Linked DNA regions of Homo sapiens: region 2 is linked to region 1. The links come from fine-mapping of genetic effects on gene expression. A gene starts in region 1. The other region holds a variant in brackets. All regions are shown on one strand. Distances are between the middles of the regions.

Region 1 (16,820 bases):
GGGATTACAGGCGTGAGCCACCATGCCCGGCCAGCAACCCACTTTTTAATATAGTCAAACAAAGGAATGAAATTATGTGGAAGAAATATTTTCCTTTATTTTATCCTCCAGATGTGTGAAGGAAAATGCTACTCTTTCATCATGTGAAACCGTCCCTCTCACCCACACAAGTTCCAATCTCAGTGAAATCTGCACATGCTATCACCCAGTGTCACCTAGACCTGAACCTCTCCCTGGCCCTTATTCAGCTCTTACGCCTACTCCTTCCCCTCCCTTAAGGTAATGGAGCCCACACCCCACACATTAGAATATCTGATGAGCATTTTAAGACTACAGAATCCCAGCACAGTGGCAGGAGCTGGTAGTCTCAGTTACTCAGGAGGCTGAGGCCAAAGGATGGCCTGAGTCCGGGAGTTCAAGACTAGCCTGGGAAACACAGTGAGACCCTGTCTCTCAAAAAAAAAAAAAAAAATCACAGAATCCCAGACCCTGAGATTGCCTGGGATTCTAATTCAATAAATCCAGGATGAGGTGTAGGGGTGTCTTTGAAAAGCTCTCTAGGTGATTCAATAGCACCACCAGGTTTGGGAATTAGGAAAAATTTAATCCTTCAATACTCCCAGTTTGCAGTATTTGCATATAACAAATAGATGGTCAGCCAATAAACTGCAGTAATCTCTCCTTCTTAAATTTTGGTTTATTTCGTTTTGAAATCAAACATGAAACTGACATGCTACTACAACTGGGATTAAGATTAGGCAGAGAGAAACTACAGGGTTTCCCCCATTTAAAAAACATCACAGAGAAATCACAGGGAAGACAAAAAGCTTTGAACCTGAAATGAATACTTGTATTAAGAGGTGCCTAATGGTGTCCCGGTGTCCCAGATGGTTTCCTGTGCTTTGAACACCTACATTTTTCTCAGAAAATCCATGTATACCATCCAGTTAACAGAGCCAGGCTGTTTGCCGTGAGAACGGGAGAGGATCCCGGGTAAGCCTTCACTCTATTGTTTTCCCAAGAGGTGGATTTCTGCTGCTTCCAATCCCTGATCTCAACATTTCACGGATCATGACCACAAAGTAATTTCTGGCAACTAAATGATTTTAGATTGTTCCAAGAGAAGAAATTTTAAAAGTGATAGCTAAAGAAGTAGGTCATCCTCCAAGCAAATAAATTTAAAGATGGTTCATTAATTTGGAAAGGAAAAGGAGCAAAGGAGAGTAAGACTGCTCTACCTCAGCTGCGTTTTTATTCTTGAACTTGCTTTTTTCCAATTTGATTAATTTCTGGGGAAAAAGTTTTTTTGTTTTTTTGTTTTGTTTTGTTTTTTTAAATAGAGATAGGGTCTTGCTCTGCCACCCAGGCTGTAGTGCAGTAGCATGATCATAGCTCACTGCAGCCTCATACTCCTGGGTGGAAGCAATCCTCTCACCTCAGCCTTCCAAGTAGCTAGGACTACAGGTACACGTCACCGCACCCAGCTAAATTTTTTATTTTTTGTAGAGATGGGGTCTTGCTATGTTGCCCAGGCCACTCTTGAACTTTCTCTCAAGTGATCCTCCCTTCTTGGCCTCTCAAAGTGCTGAGATTACAGGTGTGAGCCCCCACACCTGGCTAGAAAAAAAAATCTTTAAAAATTAATTGGGCAGGGCATGGGGGCTCACACCTGTAATCTCAGCACTTTGGGAGGCAGAGGTGGGAGGATCACTTCAGTCCAGGAGGTCCAGACCAGCCTGGGCAACACAGTGAGACCTTGTCTCTACCAAAAATAAACAAAATTAGCCAGGCATGGTGGTGTGCACTTGTAGTCCCAGCTACCTGGTGGTGTGTGCCTGTAGTCCCAGCTACTCAGGAGGCTGAAGTAGGAGGGTCATTTGAGCCCAGGAGGTCGAGGCTGCAGTAAACCAAGATTGCACCACTGCATTCCACACTGGGCAACAGAATGAGAGCCTATCTCAAAAACAATAAATAAATAAAATTAAAGTTAAATGAAAATGAAAATGAAAATTAATTAACAGTGAAACAAACCATAGCCTTTCATGCTCTGACAGCCAGACCAGTGCATGATCAGATGGCAAGCACATGGCAGAGAAACATGATGAGGCATTCAACTTCACAGTTAAAAATGCACCAAGGAAACTGAGGTACCATTCTTCACCTAGCACATTGGCAAGTATTGGAAAATCTGATACCCATGAAGGCAAAGCATGGGAAAACGAGTGCTGATCTCCACGGTGGAACTGCAAAGTGGTAGAACCTCTTTGGAAAGTCAATTTAGGAAGGGTTAAATTTTTTGTTTTTGTTTTTGTTTTTGTTTTTGAGACGGAGTCTTGCACTGTCACCCAGGCTGGAATGCAGTGGTGAGATCTCAGCTCACTGCAACCTCCCCCTCCCAGGTTCAAGAGATTCTCCTGCCTCAGCTTCCCAAGTAGCTGGGATTACAGGCACCTGCCACCACACCCAGCTAATTTTTTGTGTTTTTAGTAGAGACGAGGTTTCGCCATGTTGGCCAGGCTGGTCTCGAACTCCTGACCTTGTGATTCACCTGCCTCGGCCTCCCAAAGTGCTGGGATTACAGGCGTGAGCCACCGCACCTTGCCGGGTTAAATTTTTAAATGCATATAAAGCTTGCAATTCAGCAATTACACTTATGGACGAGGACAATCTAAATATAAACCCAAGGAATTGGTTAAATCGTTACAGGGCTTCAACCCACAAAAGGGAAATTTATGCACCCAAATTAATAAGAATGGGGGCAGTTATTTATGTCCTGATATGAAAAGACATCCAAAACCTAAATCTATATGTGATATGATCTTTTTCTTAAATGGAAAAGACTGTGCCATTTTTATCTACTTTCATGTGCATGAAGTTTTCGAAAGAATATGTAAGAAGCCATCATATTGGCTTCAAATTTTACTTAAATTTGTGAGTAATTTACCCTACTTATAAATTTAAGTTCTCAATCATTAATTTTTTTAAAAAATAAACATTAAATGAATATTGCTATGCAATGACTTTAAATAAAAATCATTAATAAGGGTAAACACATGCTTTTGATTTTTTTTTTTTTTTTTTTTGAGACGGAGTCTCTCTCTGTCGCCCAGGCTGGACTGCAGTGGTGACTGCAGTGGTGCCATCTCGGCTCCCTGCAAGCTCCACCTCCCGGGTTCACGCCATTCTCCTGCCTTAGCCGGGTGGATCACGAGGTCAGGAGTTTGAGACCAGCCTGGCCAACATGGTGAAACCCCATCTCTACTAAAAATACAGAAACTTAGCTGGGCGTGGTGGTGGGTGCCTGTAATCCCAGCGACTCGGAAAGCTGAGGCAGGAGAATCGCTTGAACCTGGGAGGCAAAGGTTGCAGTGAGCCAAAAAAAAGAATTCGGTTCAAGGAAATTTAGTTGCTTTTTTTTTTTTCAAGAGATAAACGTACTGGCTTAATTTTTCTTAGAATGCTTAGTGCTATAAATTCTAATTTCTAACTTCGCATGAATGGCTACTGCATATAGAATTATAGAGATGGGGGATGATGCCATTTAGTTTGAGTTTTCCTGCACTGGTGTTCTTTAAGCACTGAATATGTATTAAAACTAACTAAGACAAAGGAAAATAAATAATTTATTAGCATTTTTAAAAACAAAACATTTTATTTCCATTTTGTTAATTATCTTACAAGATCCAAACTAGAATAATCTTATAATGTCAGCTTAAAGCTGTAAAGGCATAGAAATTAGTCAACCCAAAGAGGATGCACATTTCAAGGCCTTTTCTTCATAGAAGGAAATATTTCAAGAGAAAATCTCCACTTATCTTATTCATCCACTAGCCTATAAGCTGTAATGGATTTAAAGGAAGCCCTGCGATTCCTGCAGTCTATCGGTACCCAAAAGAATCATCCCCACATCCATATCTCCAATTTTTGGTCTCTGTTCTGATCAGAAATTAGCAGCTCTTATAATCTGGTAAAAATCCACAGGAATACAAGTAGCCACACACAGAGAAACATCCCTCTATTAAGAAACATATAATTCTTGCCTTAAATTCTGGCCCATTTTTGTAACACTGGTGATGTAGTCACTTTGAGGCCATCTTCGTTCTCCATTTCCATTGCTAAACAAGTGGCAAATAGGAGGAAGCTTATGGGAGGAATTATGAAATGCAGCTGGCCGCCTCAATTGTCTGGTTTTGTTTGTTTGTTTGTTTGTTTCTTTGAGACAGAGTCTCGCTCTGTTGCCCAGATTGGAGTGCAGTGGCGCCAACTCGGCTCATTGCAAACTCCGCTTCCCGAGTTCACGCCATTCTCCTGTCCCAGCCTCCCGAGTGGCTGGGACTACAGGCGCCCGCCACCACGCCTGGCTAATTTTTTGTATTTTTAGTAGAGATGGGGTTTCACCGTGTTAGCCAGGATGGTCTGGATCTCCTGACTTTGTGATCTGCCTGCCTCAGCCTCCCAAAGTGCTGGGATTACAGGCGTGAGCCACCGCACCCGGCCAATTGTCTGTTTTAATGCACGAGGGTCAAACACATCCTTAAATTTACCAGTCAGACAACGGACTCTTCTATTCGAGTACATCTTTATGTTTTGGTGATTCAAGGCTCTTGTAATCAAATGGAGCTAACAAGAGCCCCCATCTCCCCACCTGCCAGAGACAATGGCCTCACCCTGTTGCAACAGACCATTGTTCAATGTCCAGCATTGAAATCATTCATCAGGCAATACATATAGAAAGGCTAATTAATTGATTGTCCAGACTTAGTCTGGAGCCTGGCTCCAGAAATCAAGATTAGCCAGAGACATGGAAGTCAGTTTGTCACTGGTCACCCCACCCTCTGTTGCCACCTGAATATGTTGCCACCTTAATATTTTTTTAAGACAAATTTTTAAAAACAGACAATTAAGGAATAATGTGAAGTGTGAGGCTTTACTTACCACCAGCATTCAGGTCATCTAATCTTCCCGCACCCTGCAGTTGTGAAACGGCCATGTCTCAAAATTAAACCCTGGCAGATAACAGACCAAGCCATTCCCCCTGCCCCCGCCTGGATCTTACATATAAAGACTGTAAAAGATTTCCAGTCTATCTCTGGATCTAACGGAAAAAATAAAGATTACAAAAGATTGAATAGAAGATAAAGACTCCTTCCATTTTACAGAAATGAACCATAGATAAAACCAAGACTTCTGCTTTAGTGCATCTAAACGTTAAGCCTGAGTAATCAAAAGCTTGTTTAACTCTCCATTTGACCTAATACAAGTGATAATTCAACCAGTGTAATGTCTGTTCAGATAAGGGCACTTAGTGAATAACTGGTAACTAAAACTAGCAGAAAAAAAGGAAAGTAAATCCAATTGCTAAATAGATAGCATGCATGTGATATAAATGTCAGCTATTAGATAGAAAAAGATCTGCCTACAACCTTTAATTAATGACCACATTCTATCCAAGGAGGGAAAAATGATGTATTAGCCTAAACCTCCCCAACCGTCCACAGACACATCAAGGAAGTTCAAGATGTAATCCTAAGTAACTCAGGGTATGAAATGGACTCATTTGAGCCATATGCACTTCATATATTTGTCTATTTAAGATAAAACGCAATTTGAAATTGCAATGCTAACAAGTCACTCTATATCTAGAGAAACAGAATCCAAAGCCCCCAAATCTGAAGTTTTTGGTCAAACTATTCACTTGATCTATTAATAACCGAACAGACTGACTTGCCTTAGTCACTATCATAATCAGTCTCACGTGATAATGAAATGATCAAGGGTTAAATTGTAGTAAAATCAGATAGGTCAAGGTATTCTCCAACTTGATATTTTCCAATCAAAACCAAGGAGCCAATATCACCCCTTCCTCTTTCCACAAGTATTCCTGAGAGCTGCCTCTGTGCCAGGCAACATGGCACGCATGAAGGAACACCGTTGGTCGGCACAACCAGGCGTGTTCCCTGCCCCTGCGAAGTATTCACAACAGCAAGAACACTAAACCCACACATGTGAAAACTGCTGGGACGGGTCCATGGTGCCACGGAGCCTAGAGTGGGAGATGGGATTACTTGGAGGTCAGGAATTGGAGCTTAACAAGAAGAGGGGAGGCAAGGGCCATGGTGCTGAGTCATTCTTAATTGGGGAGTCCTTTTGAAAAGACATTTGTGTTCAAAGCCTGAGTGATAAATTTGGCTAGTTCAAATGAAAACTAAATACATTCCAAGGATACATGTAAGTGCACTGATTTGTCTCCAAATTGATAACTGGGCATTATGCCAACAAGTTCAATGATATTCTGGATGTCATTTAAGTGATTTTTTAAAAGGAGGTTGTTTGGTTGCTTCAAGACGGTTGGCAACTTGGAAAGAGGAAAAGGATAAGGTTATGGAAGACGGAAAAAGAGAATGGAAGGAATATTTTTAAATAAACAAATTCAAGTTTACTGGGAAGGGATTAAATCCCATATTTCAGGGTGAACAGTTAGTAAGATCTGAAGGAGTATAAAAGCCGGGGCGGTGGGGGGAATGTCACCCAACTGCAAGTTTTTAGCAATTATACCTTAAAATTATTTTCATCGCTAGACTCTGACCACTGGTTACAGAGCCACTTTGACAGTAGCTGGCATCAAAACATTATGTGCATACAGTAAGTATTAAAATGCGACTTGAATCTCAAAAGGACAGTACATTCCTCAGGCCAGAAGCTTAAGCATCTCTTAGAAAAACCTACATAGCACAGAGACACAGTTAGTACTTAATATCTAGGGACCATGGATTTTACAAGTAGTTATGAATCAAAGACTGGCGGTAAAAACTATATTATTAACAGCAGTCTCTCAGCCCAAAAGAGACTAGGGCAGCTAAGGAGGTCAAGGCAATTAGGTCATGGTTGTAGGTTCCTTTTTTTTTTTTTTTTTGCATATTGTAAACATCTACACCTCCTGCGATAACTCACGTACTCTATCCTCAAATTTGACATACCGCAAATTTAACTATTAAACATGGTTATCCACATCTTTCTACAAGGTATCACAAGGGTACCTTTGTGATACAAGGGTATCACAAAATCAGTAGAGTGAAGCCTTGCTAATGAACACATGCGCTGGAAAATAGATCTAAAATACCACGACCAGAACAAGCCACAGTCTTGGCGGCTGTCCTGGCCCACAAGAAATATTCCAGCCTTGAAGACTGAAGCCGATAAAATGCAGTCGTTTCAGCACTGCGTCCAGGGAAGAGTACCCGGAATGCTCGTTACACTGACCCCATCCTTTGAGAACTTCTAGCCACTCTAGCGTGTGTTTGGCCAACTGAGTCTGCAGGCAAAGCGCTGAGCGAACGCGAGGGCGCTGGCTGGTTTGCGAAACCTGTCATTCCTTCTGGAAACGCAGCGCCTGCCCAGGTTTTTCCTGGCTCTGAGCGAGCTACACCCCAGGCTTTCTCTGCCTCGGGAAGGCGGTGCCTGCTCGGGCCGCTGCCGCAGGAGGACTGGGTACCAAACCCGCTCGCTCCAGGCACCGCTGGCATCCAGGGCGGTACGCGACGGGGAACCCGAGGGTGGCTGGGCTCCCCGGCGGGCTCCACCACGAGTCCTGGCCTCACAGCTGACTTTCCGCATCTCGGAGCTCCGGAGGCCCGGCCCGGGGTCCATTCTCCACGGATCCCCCTCCGCGCAGCTCCTCCGCCTCGGGCTGCATGGCTCCCACCGGAAGAGTGCGCAGAAAGGCTCAGCCGCCGTGGGCAGGGCGCGGGTTTTATTATTGCGCATGGCGCAGTCGCCTCCCCTGGAGACCCGCGACAAAGATGCAAGCCCCCCGCCGCGCTCGCCGCTGCTCTGGCCCCGCCCCGGCGCGAAAGACCCTGAAAAGCCTCCAAAGAGGGGTTCGCACTCCTGAGTTTGCAGATGCGGCTGGATGGGCTGGGAAGTTCTCTCGGCGGAAATCGGAGGGACCCCCCCACCCCCACCCCCACCCCCAAAGACCCGCGCCTCCCGGCGCAGGTGGCCCGGCACGCCCGTACCTTGGTGGCGGGGTCCGAGGCAGCGATGGCGGGGTCCGCGGTGGTGTCTGGCGCCGCCTCGGCCGAGGGGCCGCCGCCGCTGGGCTCGGGCTCAGCCGGCGTGGAGCTCCCCTCGGGCGGCTGCTCCGGGCTGCGCTGCTCGGTGGAGCTCCCGGCGCCCATGGCTCCTCCGCACTTCTCCCGCGCCTAGCCGCCGGGTTACGCCTTCCCCAAGCCGCAGGGACAGGGGCAAGAGCCAAAAGACGCGCGCCCGCGAGGTCCCGAGAGCGCCTTCCTTCGCCGCCAGCCGACTGCGAACGCGCCCAGCCTGCGAATGAAGGAGACGCGCTCGCGGCAAACTCCTTAAAAGAAAAGGAAAAAAAAAAAAAGGCCACCTCTTAGCCTCCGCCCCCCTCCCCCCGGTTTTTCCCTCGCTTCATCACATGAGCACAGCCCCAGACACGCCCTGCAGCAGCATCTGCCCCCAGGCTGCCGGGACCAGAGGCGCTGCGACGCGCCAGCCCAGGTCCAGGCAGCCGCCCACCCGGCCCTCGGGCGCCTCCCGTTTCTAACAGGGCGACTAGAGCTGCGGGGACGACCCAGGGCCTCAGAAGGCAAGAGAGCAGGGGAGCAAAAAGCCTGCCGGGGACACTGGATTCTCTGGGGTTTATTAAATGATGGATCACCCAAGGCAGGAGCTTCTGCTGCAGCCGACTTTCAGCTCGCCCAGGAGCGAGTCCGAGTCCCCATTTGCTTTCCTGCAGATTGTGTTTAACTCCAAACATTTGTTCCAGCCTCCTCCCCATTAGCAGGAGAAAGGCAAGCGCTCCCTGGCTCCTCCTGAGTCCGACCATATTTGGGCACCTCACGTGGCAAGAGCAGGGAACCGAGAGGTTAACGCAGTCAGGCCACGGATGAGGTGGGCCACGCAGGCCCACGCTCTCCTATCCTCCGGAACAAGTGATGTCAGGCGATGCCATCAGCAGTGCTAGCCGCCCCCCTTCCCCCGGGGAACGGGGGGAAATGAGGCTGTTACCGGAAATGTGCCCGTCCTTCTTTGAGGGCCTGTGCTGGAAGTTACCCATCCAGGCCACCTCTGCTCCGCGCGATGCCGACACATGACAGCATAGATCTGTTCCTTTGCCGTCAGCCTTTCTCAAAAGATGAAGACTTTAAATAATACCAGCACAAGTGGCTTGCATCCTTTCATTTCCGACCCTTGAATATAATATGTATTACATGAGCATGGCAGCCAATCAATAAGTATTTGAACTAAATTAAATTTGTAGCTGGATTGCTTGGCGCAAAGCATTAAGGCTTTGGGGCTGAAAGACAAAATTTATTCCAGTTGTAACTAGCAACCGAGTGCCCCAGTTTTCACAAATACTTTGAATCTCCATTAAGAATGAAGAAACCAGCCTGGTTAACATAGCGAGACCTTGTCTCTACAAAAAATAAAAAAATTAGCCAGGCGCAGTGGTGCACCTGTAGTCCTAGCTACTCAGGAGGCTGGGGACGCTGGGGTAGAAGGATGACTTCAGCCCAGGAATTCGAGGCTGCAGTGAGCTATGACTGTGCCTCTGCACTCCATCCTAGTCGACAGAGCAAGATTCTGTCAAAAAAAAAAAAGAAAGAAAGAAGGAAGAAACTTTCGGAATATTCACACCAAATTCCAGATAAATATCTCATACTCAGATTTAGTACAATTTTGTAGAAAGGGTGTAAGCAGTAGTTCAGCACTAGGATGTTTCATGCCTAATGAATTGCATGAATCGAATGGTACCCTGGGAACCATAGGTTAGTTACTCACCATCAAATTTGTTTTCTGAATTAATTTTTTTTCTTTTTCTTTTTTTGAGACAAGGTCTCGCTGTGTTGCCCAGGCTAGTGTTGAACTCCTGAGCTCAAGCGATCCTCCTGCCTTGGCCTCTCAAAGTGCTGGGATTATAGGTGTGAACCACCACACTGGGCCTGTTTTCTGAATTAATTATTTTTATTTAAAGGACTACACGAAGGCCAATTTCTCTGGAGTTTATCTCTTAAGAAACAGTATATTTGCAAAATGCTTAGTTTTAGGAATTTATACACATTTCCCCCATTTTGACTTAAATTTTGACTATTTAGGAAACATTAGAATTCTTACTCTGTACCAGGCACTGTTCAATGCACTTTACATAATAATCTTTACAATAACCCCATGGGATAGATAGTATTATTCTCATTTTACCATTGGCAGGAGGGGGAGGAGTAGGCCCGGAGAAATTAAATTGTGTGCTTCAGGTTTCACAGCCAGGAGTTGGAAGAGCAGGAAGTCCAACTGGCATCTGCTTTCAGGGTCCACGCTTCACCACCGCATGGCACTCCCCTTCCCTTTCAATCAACTGTGTTCTCTCCTCTCAGAGGTGTTACTGAAACGTGGCATTTGGACCTCACTTAGGATTTTAAGAGCAAAAAGCACTGTTAAAACCTACTTGAGGCCAGGTGTGGTGGCTTACACCTGTAATCCCAGCACTTTGGGAGGCCGAGGTGGGTGGATCACCTGAGGACAGTAGTTCAAGACCAGCCTGGGCAACATGGTGAAACCCCGTCTCTACTAAAAGTACAAAAATTAGCCAGGCATGGTGGCGCGTGTCTGTAATCCCAGCTACTCAGGAGGCCAAGACACGAGAACTGCTTGAACCTGGGAGGTGGAGGTTGCAGTGAGCTGAGATCATGCCATTGCACGCCAGCCTGGATGACAGATTAAGACTCCGTCCCAAAAAAAAAAAAAGAAGAAGAAAAAAAAAACTATTTGAGAATGATTAACGTCAGCACATTTGAAAATGTATCAGTAAGTAGCACAAATACTATCAACATTTTCACATTCTGTGAGATTATATTTACTTTGTTCCTGGGAAATTCTTAGCAAAGCTTTTCACATCTACTACCCTTTAAATTTTCAGAAAGGATTGCAGGGTCAAGCCAACAGTGTACAACCTACGTGCTGAGGAAGATATCAGCATCTGCTTAGATTAGCAGTTACTTGCTTTTTGTTTATTTTCCAGGCCATGTAAATGTTCATACTCTTATTTGTAAAAAGTAAAATCATTGCGCTGGGCGCGGTGGCTCACGCCTGTAATCCCAGCACTTTGGGAGGTTGAAGTGGAAGGATTGCTTGACACCAGGGGTTCAAGACCAGCCTGGGCAACACAGTGAAACTCCCATCTCTACAAAAAATAAAAAAAAATTTAGCCAGGAGTGGTGGTGCATGCCTGTAGTCCTAGCTACTTGGGAGGCTGAGGCGGGAGGATCACTTGAGCCCAGGAGTTCCAGACTGCAGCCTGGATGACATAGTGAGACCCTGTCTCAAAAAAAAAAAAGAGAAGAAAAGAAAAGTGGTTGTGTTATTAATGACCTCTAGCGATGAAATAGCCCAACCTTTTGGGTATGCCACTTAGTGCTTCAGAATGCTACAAAGTTTGTTACTTTTTTTACTTTTCTTTCTTTCTTTCTTTTTCTTTCTTTCCTTCTTCTCTGTTCTTTCTTTCTTTTTCTTTCTTTCCTTCTTCTCTTTCTTTCTTTCAATAAATTTCTATCAAGTACCTATTATGTGCCAAGCACAAAGTTACCACTCTAGTTTCCAAGGTTCTAAATCGAGTCACTGAGGTTTTCTTTTCTAGGGCTTCCAAGATGCCTTCGGAATTGCTTGGATTGGCATCAGAGTAGAGGGGAGGCAGGTGTTCTCTATTTTTCACTTCTCAGTCCAAGGCTGTTGGTTCAATGTCTCACCAGCAGCTCAATTTTTCTCCAAATAGCAGGATGCAGGTGTCCCCACACATCCTCTCCCATGGGGCAGTCGTTGGTAGAGCTGTTTCCCTGAGAGGGTTAATTCTCTCATAAACACAGTTTGAGATTTCTCAAAAACAAATACATGTTGCCTGTGTAGCAGGCTGAACCTGTACTTCGCACACATACTTCTCCAGAAAGACGGGTCACATGAGGTTTAACAATAAAATGTAGAGTCATAGTTGGGCACCTTGTGCATGCACCAAAACAGTTTCAAATATAACATTAAAGGAATTCACAAATGTCAAACATTTTACAACTGAGTTCAGACACCCCCTTCAAAGTGCAATAATAATTTTAATTATTAAAACAGTTTAAAATCTACCGTTAACTCTACCCTAAAGATTCATTCTCTAGTTACAAAGCCTTCGCTGAGACTGGCAACTCTTCACCTTCACCTTTGAAACTGCTTCTCTCTTGATTATAACTTCTTTGTTTTCCCTGGATAAAACACCTACTTCTTTCTAAACCAGTTGTTCCCACAGAGATATCCAGTCATCTAAGAACCTAATTCCCACTCTATCTTGTGCTCGTGTGAATTTGTTATTCTTAATACTCCCTTATCACAGAGCTGTTTCAGGCAGAATAGAGAGTACTAGAATGTGCGCATGCATCTCTTAAGATATGATTTTACTTTTTACAAATAAGAATATTAACATTTACATGGCCTGGAAAATAAATAACCAAGAATAATGTTATTACCCTGTTGAGAAGTCTATGGAAGAAACTGTGAGTAAATTATTTGAATTTTACTTTCTATGTGAGGATTTGAGACGGATTATTTTAGAGCATTAATTATAATTTGCTAATTATAAACTAGAAGAATTAACAGTTGTATTCAATTCATGAGTACTTAATAATCTAAAATTCATATGGAAGCTACAGAAAATGTTCAATTTACAGATGAAGTTTAAAGCTCAGCCGCTTGTAGACATACATCACGTATATATATATAGGCAAATGCTATCCTTGTAACTCTTAAGGAATTTATTGCTTTGGAGTTAAGTATAAAGCCAGCTATTTGGATCTCAGTTTCATTTACCAAGGTTTAAGATTGGTGCCTGACTCAAATTCAGGATTACTCTCAAGTAACAAAGGAGGGACTGGAACCAAGATAGAGTAAATGATGTGTCCAATATGGAGAAAGAATTTCTCAGGATGCACTGTTAGAAGATACCAGAAGGTATGTGGAAGGTGTCTACATTCCAGGGTAGATCAAGTGGCTGTAATCCTCACAATTTCAAATCCCTTCTACAAAGGACCCTATAAGTATCCAACATTAAAATATATATTTTTCACATATTAATTAAATAAACTTTCACTGAGTTGAGTGCCAGGCAAAATGCAGAGGACTTTTCAAAGTTGGAAACTTTGCTTCAATAAGTCAACATTGCGCACTCAAAACAAAGCTATTATACAATATATTATACGATGTGAACTGTAGATTTTATGTTCCTCTACCAACTTAAATCCCTTTGTGGCCTGGTGCGGTGGCTCACATCTATAATCCCAGCACTTTGGGAGGCGGAGGCGGGTGGATCACCTGAGGTCAGGAGTTTGAGACCAGCCTGGCCAACATGGTGAAACCCCGTCTCTACTTTAAAAAGATACAAAAATTAGCCAAGCGTGGTGGTGTGCGCCTGTAATCCCAGCTACTTGGGAGGCTGAGGCAGGAGAATTGCTTGAACCTGGGAGATGGAGGTTGCAGTGAGCCAAGATCGCGCCACTGCACTCCAGCCTGGGCGAAAGAGTAAGACTCTGTCTCAAAAAAAATAAAAAAGAAAAAAAGATTAGGTTGTGAATTGATAAACATCTCAACTAGCAATACACAAAGGAAAGGTGGATAACCTGATCTAATGTTTATTTTGTATTCCTTTAAGTTAGCTTGCTAAATGCTTTTAAAATCATAACAATAGCAATAAACCTATATAAACATGCCCAAATGATTTTTGACAAAGGCTCAAAAGTATTCACATGGAGATGTCACTAGTAAATAAATAAATAAATAAATAAATAAATGTATTTTTTAAAAAGACAAAGGTGCAAAAGTAATTCAATGGTGGATGACAGCCTTTCAACAAATGGTGCTGAAGCAATTGGACATTCATGGGCAAAAAGTTAACCTTGACTTATGTCACACATCTGATAAAATAATTAACTACAAATGGATCACAGACTTACACGTAAAACACAAAACTGTAAAACTTTTAGAAAAGACAGGAGAAGGCCAGGCGCGGTGGCTCACGCCTGTAATCCCAGCACTTTGGGAGGCTGAGGTGGGCGGATCACAAGGTCAGGAGATCGAGACCATCCTGGCTAACAAGGTGAAACCCAGTCTCTACTAAAAATACAAAAAATTAGCCGGGCATGGTGGCGGAAGCCTGTAGTCCCAGCTACTCAGGAGGCTGAGGCAGGAGAATGGCGTGAACCCGGGAGGCGGAGCTTGCAGTGAGCCAAGATCTCCCCACTGCACTCCAGCCTGGGAGACAGAGCGAGACTCCGTCTCAAAACAAAAAAAATGAAAAGACAGGAGAAAATCTTAGGAAGCTAAGGCTAAGCAGGATAGTTCTTAGACTTGATACAAAAAGCATGATCCATAAGAGGAAAAACTATAAATTGGACTTCACCAAAATTTAAAACTTTTGTCCTACATAAGACCCAGTTGAAAAGATGAAAAGAAAAGCTACAGATTGGGAGAAAATGTTTGCAAACCACATATCCCACAAGGGACTAGTATCTAAATATAGAAAGAATCCTTAAAACTCAGCAGTAAAAAAACAAGCAAACAAACAAAAAATCAACAAGAACACAGGTAAAATACTTGAAGCAACATTTTATCAAAGAGGATCTACAGGTGGCAAATAAATTGTGTGCAATTTGGGAAAAGCAAATTAAAACCACAGTGAGATATCACTACACAATGATCAGGGTGGCTAAAGTGAAAACAATAGTGACAACGCCAAATGCTGATGAGGCTGCAGAGAAACTGGATCACTCATACACTGCTGGTGGGAATGTAATATAGCATAGTCACTCTGGAAGACAGTTTGGCGGCTTCTTTTTTTTTTTTAAACTGAGTCTCACTCTGTCGTCCAGGCTGGAGTGTGGTGTGCGATCTTGGCTCACTGCAACCGCCACCTCCGAGGTTCAAGCGATTCTTGTGCCTCAGCCTCCCAAGCAGCTGGGATTACAGGCGCAAATCACGCCCAGCTAATTTTTGTATTTTTAGTAGAGACAGGGTTTCACCATGTTGGCCAAGCTGGTCTCGAACACCTAACCTCAAGTGTTCTGCCTGCCTCGGCCTCCCAAAGTGCTGGGATTACAGGTGTGAGCCACTGTGCCTAGCCGGCAGCTTCTTAAAAAACTAAGAAGCCAAAAAACAAAAAAGACAAGAAACATGCAACTACCATACCATATGACCTTACAGTTACACTCCTGGAGCTTCACGTAACAACTTGAACATGCAGTTTATACCAGCTTTACTTGAAATAGCCCCAAAATGGAAAACCTAGATGCCCTTCAACATGTTAGTTAAACAAACTGATCTGCCCATACCATGAAATACTAGTCAACAATAAAAAGAAACAAACTATTAATATATGCAACAACCTGCATGAATCTCCAGAGAATTCTGCTGAAAGAAACCTGTCAATCCCCAAAGGTTACATACAAATGATCCCATTTATATGACAGACTTGAAATGGCAAAATTACAGAAATGAAGAAGTCAGTGGTAGCTAAGGGTTAAAGAAGGGTAGAGGGTGGAGAGAACTGGGTGTTGCTGTAAGAATGCAACAAGAGGGATTTTTATGGGATGGGAATGTTCTGTTCCTTGACTGTATCAATGTCAATATCTTGGTTGTGATATTGCACTCTATTTTTGCAAGATGTTACTATTGGGGAAAACTGGGTGAAGGGTATACGGGATCTCTCTGTATTATTTCTCACAACTGCATGGTAATCCACAATTAACTCAAAATGAAAATTTTAATTTCTGAAAAAGAATGATAAAATATGTATTTTCAGACGGGCTAAAATAAAGGTCCAAGGTACCTGTTTATGTTCAACTTACAACCTCCTTCACTTTCCAGTATATTTGAAATACCCTTTTAATATTAAAATAAGCCAAGATAGAGATCAACACCTTATTAACAGGTTGGTATTTTGTTTTGCTTGTAAGCTTGTTAACTCTGAAACAATCAGACTTGATAAAATACAGAAACAATAGATTTCCTGACTCTGCAGTGCTTTGTACAAAGCTCCTTTCACTCCTTGGCTTCATCTTGCCAGTGAAGAAGTAGTGGACACAACTATAATCTTCCTGGCTGATATCATTTCCAAATGCTCCTGCAAGAGTCTCTCACCTCTCTGTTTCTCTCCTCACCAATGTGTAGCATGGCTCTAGTTTGTAAAATGCATGTTGGAATCTAATGGATCATGAAGATGTGTTCAGAGTCAGATAAAGAAAAAAAGGGCCAGGTGCGGTGGCTCACGCCTGTAATCCCAGCACTTTGGGAGGCTGAGGCGGGTGGATCACCAGAGGTCAGGAGTTCGAGAACAGCCTGACCAACATAGTGAAACCCCATTTCTACTAAAAATACAAAAATTAGCCGAGTGTGGTGGCGCACACCTGTAGTCCCAGCTACTTGGGAGACTGGGGCAGGAGAATCACTTGAAGCCAGGAGGTAGAGGTTGCAGTGAGCTGAGATCGCACCGTGCCACTGCACTCCAGCCTGGGCAACAAGAGCGAGACTCTATCTCAAAAAAAACCCACGCACACACACACAAAAAAAAAAAGAAAGAAAAGAAAATTAAAAAAGGGATGACTTTGGGGTTTTAAATGTTCATTTTCTAGACTAAATTTAATTTGAACAAAATTGAGCATGGTTCATACTTTCTGAATTTAGAAAATCCATATCATTCTTATGGCCTATATTTAATAACAACTATTATATATTCACTTGCCTGTAAACATTTGCAACACTCAAGGTAATGCAGCAAG
Region 2 (8,000 bases), 120 kb before region 1:
GTCTTTCTCTTGCAGTTACCGATATTAATGCTTTACGGTACATTTGCTTCCTCGTTTATAAAGCACTTTCACAATGGGAAAATCTTGTGAAGAACAGTCTTTAGTTACACATTCTGAAATGAGGAATGGCTGAGACAGGGCAGGTGAACTCTTTCTCAGTCACCAAGCTGAAGTTTGCACATGAGCTATTAAGAAGCGATGCAAGCATCTTGTAGATTGTCTTCTATGTGTTTCTAAGGACACAGAGGAGGCAAAAGAGTTGTCTCTCTGTCCCGAATTGTTTGTGAGACCCATATACTGAGCTGCCAACTCCACTGACTCTTGGATATCTCTTAGGTTTCTCAAATTGCCTCCACGCTCATGTCAGTATGTGCCTCCACATCCAGGTTGGCAATCTAGAAACTTCATTCTTCACCCCACAGTTCCCACAGAAGATAATCAGGTACCGTGCCCTGTCGATCTGCCTCCTAACAGCTCTTGATCTCACCCACGGATCTCCAGCCAAACTGCACCTACTTTAATATAGGCCATTATCAGTTCTTGTCTGGATTATTCTCTTTTTTTAAACTTTTATTAATTGTATTTTTTATTTTTTTTTAAGAGACAGGAGTCTCCCTGTGTTGGTTAGGCTGATCTTGAACTCCTAGGCTCAAGCGATCCTCCCACCTCAGCCTCCTACCTGGGACTACAGCTGCATCCCACCACACCCAGCTTGCCTGGATTATTCTAACAGCATGTAAACTGACCTCCTCTCAACCTCCAGGCCTCAATTCTCTGCAAGATAGATGCCACTGACATTTTAGGTAGAAACATCTGTCTTATGCAGGGTTTTTCTGTGCCATGCAGGATGTCAAACATCTGTGGCCGTAACTCATTACATACCGTAACATCCTAGCCGTTGTGGTAACCAGACACGTGGCAGCACAAACCAGGGTGGAGAGTGGGACCTTTCACTAGCCCAACACTGCGGATCACTACGGTAAGAGGATTGCATCTTTTCCCTGCCAAACTATTTCAATGACTTTGTAGGATAAATCTCATATCTTGAAATGGCCCCCTGGCCATCTCTGCAGTATTATTTCTATAGTCTTTAAGAAGGACCCTAGTTATGTTTAGATTTCAGATTCTAGAGGCAATTCCATCTACTTTTCCAAGAATTAGGTAAGCCCCTGAGGGTCACAGGGATAAGTAGAATCAAGCACAATGTGGTTTTAAAATTAGCCTTATTTAGAGTATTGCCTCTTTGTTCATTAATTATACCTAGTTATTTGAGATTATTAAAACAAATAAAAAAACACAGGGTTAAGACTAAGCACTGGGCTTTAGTACTCAATATTCTTTTGTGGGCACATTAGACTTAGGTCCTCATTTCATCATTTAGGTATTGTTATTCTACCTCTGGTCTCTAAACATAGGTGTTATACTCAGTGAAGCCTCTCTTGAAGGTTACATGTTAAACTACCCTTCTCCTGTTAAAACTTTTAATGTCGACAGGTGATAGAAGAAGAATATGCACAGTTGCAAGAAGACCTCACTCATAACTGTAGAATACTACAGTAAAGATGTCTCACACCTGTAATCCCAACACTTTGGGAGCCTAAGGCAGGAGGATGGCTAGAGTCCAGGAGTTGGAGACCACTAGCCTAAGCAACATAGGGAGACCCCGTCTTTACAAAATATAAAAAATTATCTGGGCATGGTGGGGCACACCTGTGGGTGTTGTAGAGGCTGAGGTGGGAGGATTGCTTGAGCCAAGGAGGTTGAGGCTGCAGTGAGCCACGATTGCATGACTGCACTCCAGCCTGGGTGATAGAGTGAGACCCTTTCTCAAATAAATAAATCATGATGATTTTCACCACCATGCTATCTTCAGATCCTGGTTAGCTTAGCCCAACCTGTGTTATCACTTCAAAGTCTCAGCTTTCTCATATTAAAAGAAGGGCTCAGCTTGTTTTCCTAATTCCAATTATATAGGTTGGAGACAATAAGCAATCTGTTAGGAGAAGCTCGCATTTGTATCAAAGTTATACCAGGTTGTCTGTGACCAGCAGATCCATTTCCAGAATCTCATTAGAAATGAATAGTCGGCCAGGCACGGTGGCTCACGCCTGTAATCCCAGCACTCTGGGAGGCCAAGGCGGGTGGATCACAAGGTCAGGAGATCAAGATCATCCTGGCTAACACGGTGAAACCCCGTCTCTACTAAAAATAAAAAAATTAGCCAGGCATGGTGGCAGGCGCCTGTAGTCCCAGCTACTCGGGAGGCTGAGGCAGGAGAATGGCATGAACCCGGTAGGCGGAGGTTGCAGTGAGCCGAGATCGCACCACTGCACTCCAGCCTGGGTGACAGAGTAAGACTCCGTCTTGAAAAAAAAAAAAAAAGAAATGAATAGTCATGGCCGGGCACAGTGGCTCATGCCTCTAATTCCAGCACTTTGGGAGGCTGTGGCGGGTGATCAGTTGATGCCAGTTCAAGACTAGCTTGGCTAACATGGAAAAACTCCGTCTCTACTAAAAATGCAAAAATTAGCTGGGCATAGTGGTGGGCACCTACAGTCCCAGCTACTCAGGAGGCTGAGGCATGAGAATTGCTTGAACCTGGGAGGCGGAGGTTGCAGTGAGCCTCAATTGCACTACTGCACTCTAGCCTGGGTGATGGAGTGAGACTCTGTCTCAAAAAAAAAAGAGAAAAAGAAAAAGAAAAAAATGGTCATGTTGTTTAACTGAAGTCACAAGTCTCTGATTCCAGAGAGCGTCCTGCCCCATGCCCCATGCCCGGAAGGAAGGAATGCGTGCTCAGAGAGACCAAGAAGAATCTAGACAGACAGGCCTTGCTGTGTTTCCCCACTCAGTCTGTTAGCATTAGATCATATCCCTTTTGTCCAGTCATATTTCTCCACGTCCATACTTTGTTGAACCTATATTAAAATGGACAATTTCCCCTGCATTTTTGGGTCTTCATTCTGAAGGCTCCCAGGTACACATTAATAAAATTTGTATGACTTTCATTTAAAAAAGAATAGGGCCAGGTGTGGTGGCGCATGCCTGTTATCTGAGCACTCTGGGAGGCTGAGGTGGGTGGATTGCTTGAGTCCAGGATTTTGAGACCAGCCCAAGCAACATACCAAAACCCCATCTCTATTAAACATGGATGTATATAATTCTCTATTCTTGACTAGGATTTCAAAACAAAAAAAAATAGAATACACTTTGGGGGGCCGAGACAGAATTGTTTTAGCCCAGGAGTTTGAGACCAGCCTGGGCAACATGGCAAGACCCCATCTCATGGTGGCACATGCCTGTAGTCCCAGCTACTCAGGAGATGGGAGGATCCCTTGAGTCCAGGGGTTCAAGGTTACACTGAGCTCTGATGGCATCACTGCCTTCCGGCCTGTGTGACAGAGCCAGACCCCATCTCTACAAAATATGAAATCAAAATACAAATAAATGTTTAAAAGAAATAGTCATGTAGATTTGAATTTATGTGACACTGATTTTGTGTTCCGGTTCCGAGCTCTGCTACTATCTGGGAATCCTTGGACTGCGTCCATTTCCTTTCTTACAGGGTTGGAGAAAGAGGTTCTAACTCTGGTTCTGGTTATTGGTTGGCATTTCAGAGAAGGTTTGTGTGACTATCCAAAAACTGTACATAAAACTTTATATTGGGGAGTCCGAGGTCAGCTAGAAGCTTAATGAGATTCTAATTAAAGGAGCCCAGGACCCAAAAAGGTTATGATCATGAATAGAGATCTTTGTGGACTCACGCCTATCCTAGATACATTCATTCCAAACTCTCATGATGCTCTATGAACAAAGGGTGCTAAGTAGTTAAAAGCAGAGCTTAAATGTATGACGAATATCACAACAGACAAGAGAAAAGCAATGGAAACTGAATCACAGTGAAATTACAGAAAGAAAATCCATGGCATTTAATTAGATTGCATTTTATTTAGATAAATGAAAATTTGCCCCAAACAGAACTAGGAATCAAATATTGTCTT[C/G]GACTAGAGGTAATTGCTAAGCTGGAAGCTTATATTGAAAACTAAAATTTCCAGCCCTTGACTATCTGTAGTTCCAAACATCAAAGGAAAATATTGGAACAATTTATCTATGTACAGAGAGAGGCAACTCATGGGTACCATAAGCAAAATAACCTGAGGGGGAACATTTGATATTACAAGAAGTGGTGAGAGTTTACAAGTCTTGCATTGCTTTCTATTGTACATGGCTCTGTAGTAATGCCAAAAATAACAAAATGTAGGCACTTGCTCTGACTTCTGCAGTTTACATTAGATTATTATGTACTTCATAAATTAACAGCAGCTTTAGAATTATAAAACAGTATTATATTTCATGCTACTGTTGGTGTTCTTCTTGTTAAAATAATGTTCTCAACGGACATAGATACAGAGCTTGTACAGAAGTAACTCTGGGCACATCCAGATAGTACAAAAAGCAGTCATAAAGCAGCTACTCATGGAATCGCAACTGTGATGGCCAGCGAGCACCTGGCCACAGGTGGTAGGAAAAGACAAACGCGGGTGGAATTTAAACAAAAACGTCAATTTCCCACAAACTACACAAATCTTTAATCTGTTCAAAACAGCACAGAATGTCTTCCTGCCATAGAGAGGAAGTCAATATGAACTTGTTATAAATTGCTGTCATTTCCAAAACTCTTTAGTTGATGTTCAGAACTAGAAACCAGCACTTGGATTTCAATCTCAGTTGGCCAAAAAAAAAAAAAAAAAAAAATTATATATATATATCAGAGGTTTTTTGAATTTGGGGATTTTAATAATGATGCATGGGTAGCTATTATATATATTTGAGAATAACTCCTAAAAGATGACTTCCAACTACAAACAAGACTATATATACACTGCTATCATGAGGTGTTTTACTAATATGGCCAATTATGTATGAAGTTAGATTTGTTAGCAAAAAGAAACTACTTTCAGTTTTAAAAGCAAACTTTCTTTCCATTAAAACTAGGCTTTCCAGCTAATCAGCAGTCAAAATTTAAATTTTCAAACTGGAGTACCAAGTTTGAGTAAAATCTGGAAAGCTATATGCCAGGCCAGTTCTGTGTGTCAAGAGTAGATAAGTGACACTATTCTTCGTGTGACAATTGTCTGACAAAACCCTTAATGTAGGCTGAGGCAGGAGAATCGCTGGAATCCGGGAGGTGGAGGTTGCGGTGAGCTGAGATCGTGCCATTGCACTCCAGCCTGGGCAACAAGAGCGAAACTCTGTCTCAAAAACAAACAAACAAACAAACAAAAAAACAAACCCTCAATGTATTAGCATGACTCATCATTTTGACATTTAAAAAATTTTCCAAGATTATTTCAGGAAAGGCATTTTTACTATTAATTAAGCTTTCTTAAAATTTCTTTCTAGAGACATTTGTTATTGTTTGAAACCAAAAATATTAACACAAAAAAATTGACATTTTCAGGAATTACCAGATGGTACAATTGTAGCAAGAACGTCAATCTGAAAAGCTACTGGTTTATTTCAGGAAAGCTATCTCGGCCATGGCTTCCTCTGAACACACAAACCAGTGACAAGGGGTTTCATGTAATGACTACATCAGAAAGTTCTAGCTTATCAATCATTATCTTTAGAATTCTAATGTGGTACACATATGTCCCAGGCTTCCTGGTATCTAATAAAACCAGCAAATCTAAGTGAAGCAAATATTTTATTTAAATCAGTCGTCAAATCACAACTTATCCAAATGAATGTGTTGCAACATTGTTCTTAAAAGAATGGCACAAATATGGCACAAACACAATCCAGTATCTATCAAAATACCATTTGTAAAGAACCTGACTTATTTCATGCCATGTGTGAATGCAGTCCAGCATATAAGAGTAGAATCAAAAACTTACAACAATTCTTTTCTTCATAACATATAAAACATATTCACTACTTTGCCTCAGGATTAAGCACACTTATCGGTCCAAACAACCATAACAAGTAGGAAAAAGGATGTAAAGTTAATTTGCTACCAGAATATAACTTCTTTCTAACCTCCACTGGGTTAGAAAGAAAAATTTCCCAATGACAATAGAACATTCTGTATGTTTCAAAATGCTTTTTAGTTTTAGCACACTCCGTGTAATAGGAAAGTGACCAATTTCAGAGTACCACTAAATATGGACCTCAATCATTAGTGAATTTTAAAGAATTGTACCTTGATCAGGAATGTTACATCTAGGAGGCTCTGTTTTTCGTGGGTTATATAACTGAGGCTTAAAGCTCCCCAAGCCTGCACTATGGCACATGCCCCATCATATACTGTGTGATACAAAAAGCATGTAGTATCCTGCACATTTCCTTAAACATTAAGAAAAAAATATACAATAGATACAGGAGGACTACTTAAAACATACATATAAATATGTAAAGAATGATACTCCAGTTTCAGAAGCAGAACTAGGTATTGCCAACTCCAGTTCCAGGTTAAGAATTTAGGACCTTAAATCAGAATTTATATGGTTATCAAGGGAAAATTGTAGGTTGGTCTTGGAAAGAGGAAATGTTAAATGGCTCTAGCTCCTGATGAAGCCTCAGGATTGTCAGGGGCTCTCTAGAAATGAGATCAGTTGATGTGCCTGCTCTCCAATTCTCAAAGTTCTGAAATACTGGTCTTCAGTCTCAGCAGCAGCATTCATTTTCTTCTACTACTTGTCTTCACATTCTGGTCTTCCAAACAGACAATGAGTTTAACTGTAGGAGGAGGAAGAATCAGCGTAAATAAAATCTCCTTTTTCTCTCTCATTTATTAACAACAGGATAGTTGTCAAAGTGACCTAATAATACCATAGTTTAACTCCATTAAAAAAACAAAGATGGGGCCGGGCGCGGTGCCTCATGCCTGTAATCCCAGCACTTTGTGAAGCTGAGGAGGGCAGATCATGAGGTAAAGAGATCGAGACCATCCTGGCCAACATGTTGAAACCCTGTCTCCACTAAAAATACAAAAATAAGCTGGGCATGGTGGCATGCACCTATAGTCCCTGCTATTCGGGAGGCTGAGGCAGGAGAATCGCTTGAACCCAGGAGGTGGAGGTTGCAGTAAGCTGAGATTGTGCCACTGCACTCCAGCCTGGCGACAGAGCGAGATTCTGTCTCAAAAACAAACAAACAAACAAAAAACAAAGATAGGGCTGGGTGCGGTGGCTCATGCCTGTAATCCCAGCACTTTAGGAGGCCGAGGCGGGCAGATCACTTGAGGTCAGGAGTTCAAGACCATCCTGGGGGAAACTCCGTCTCTACTAAAAATACAAAACTAAGCTGGGCATGGTGGTGTGTTATCTGTAATCCCAGCTACTCAGGAGGCTGAGGCAGGAGGATCGCTTGAACCTGGGAGACTGAGGTTGCAGTGAGCTGAGATTGCGCCACTGCACTCCAGTCGGGGTGACAGAGTGAGACTCTGTCTCAAAAACAAAACAAAACAAAAGAAAACGAAGATGGGTTGAGCACAGTGGCTCACGACTGTAATCCTAGCACTTTGGGAGGGTGAGGCAGGAGGATTTCTTGAGGCCAGGAGTTTGAGACCAGCCTGGGCAACATAGCAAGACCCCTGTCTGCAAAAAAATTTAACAATTAGCTCGGAGTAATGACATGTGCCTGTGGTCCCAGCAGCTATTCAGGAGACAGAGGCAGAGGCAGGCGATTTGCTTTAGCCCAGGAAGTCAAGGTTGCAGCAATCCATGATTGCACCACGGCATTCCAGCCTGGGTGACACAGCAAGGCTCTCTCAAAAAACAAAACAAAGATAGGGCTGGGCGTGGTGGCTCACACCTGTAATCCCAGCACTTTGGGAGGCCAAGGCGGGCGGATCACGAGGTCAGGAGATCGAGACCTCCTGGCTAACACGGTGAAAACCCATCTCTACTAAAAATACAAAAAATTAGCTGGGTATGGTGGCGGGCACCTGTAGTCCCAGCTACTCGGGAGGCTGAGGCAGGAGAATGGCGTGAACCTGG

What was found. PIP is the estimated chance that this variant, and not a neighbour inherited with it, causes the effect.
Region 2: its variant is the best candidate, but not a certain one, in a credible set for the expression of AKAP12 in whole blood (TOPMed, PIP 0.78).

The regions. Positions count from the first base shown.
Region 1 is chr6:151,231,920-151,248,739 of GRCh38, reverse strand. It overlaps AKAP12 (A-kinase anchoring protein 12), which reads right to left and starts at 8,773. Exons shown (of 5, transcript NM_005100.4): 1 at 8,681-8,773; 2 at 8,016-8,356. The coding sequence starts at 8,177. RefSeq lists enhancers at 7,806-8,383, 8,461-8,970.
Region 2 is chr6:151,354,465-151,362,464 of GRCh38, reverse strand. It overlaps AKAP12 (A-kinase anchoring protein 12), which reads right to left. Exons shown (of 5, transcript NM_005100.4): 5 at 3,906-6,738. Among named protein-coding and RNA genes, the nearest start is that of ZBTB2, 33 kb to the left of the region's middle. RefSeq lists an enhancer at 7,176-7,677. The variant C/G (reference allele first, on the strand shown) is at 4,002.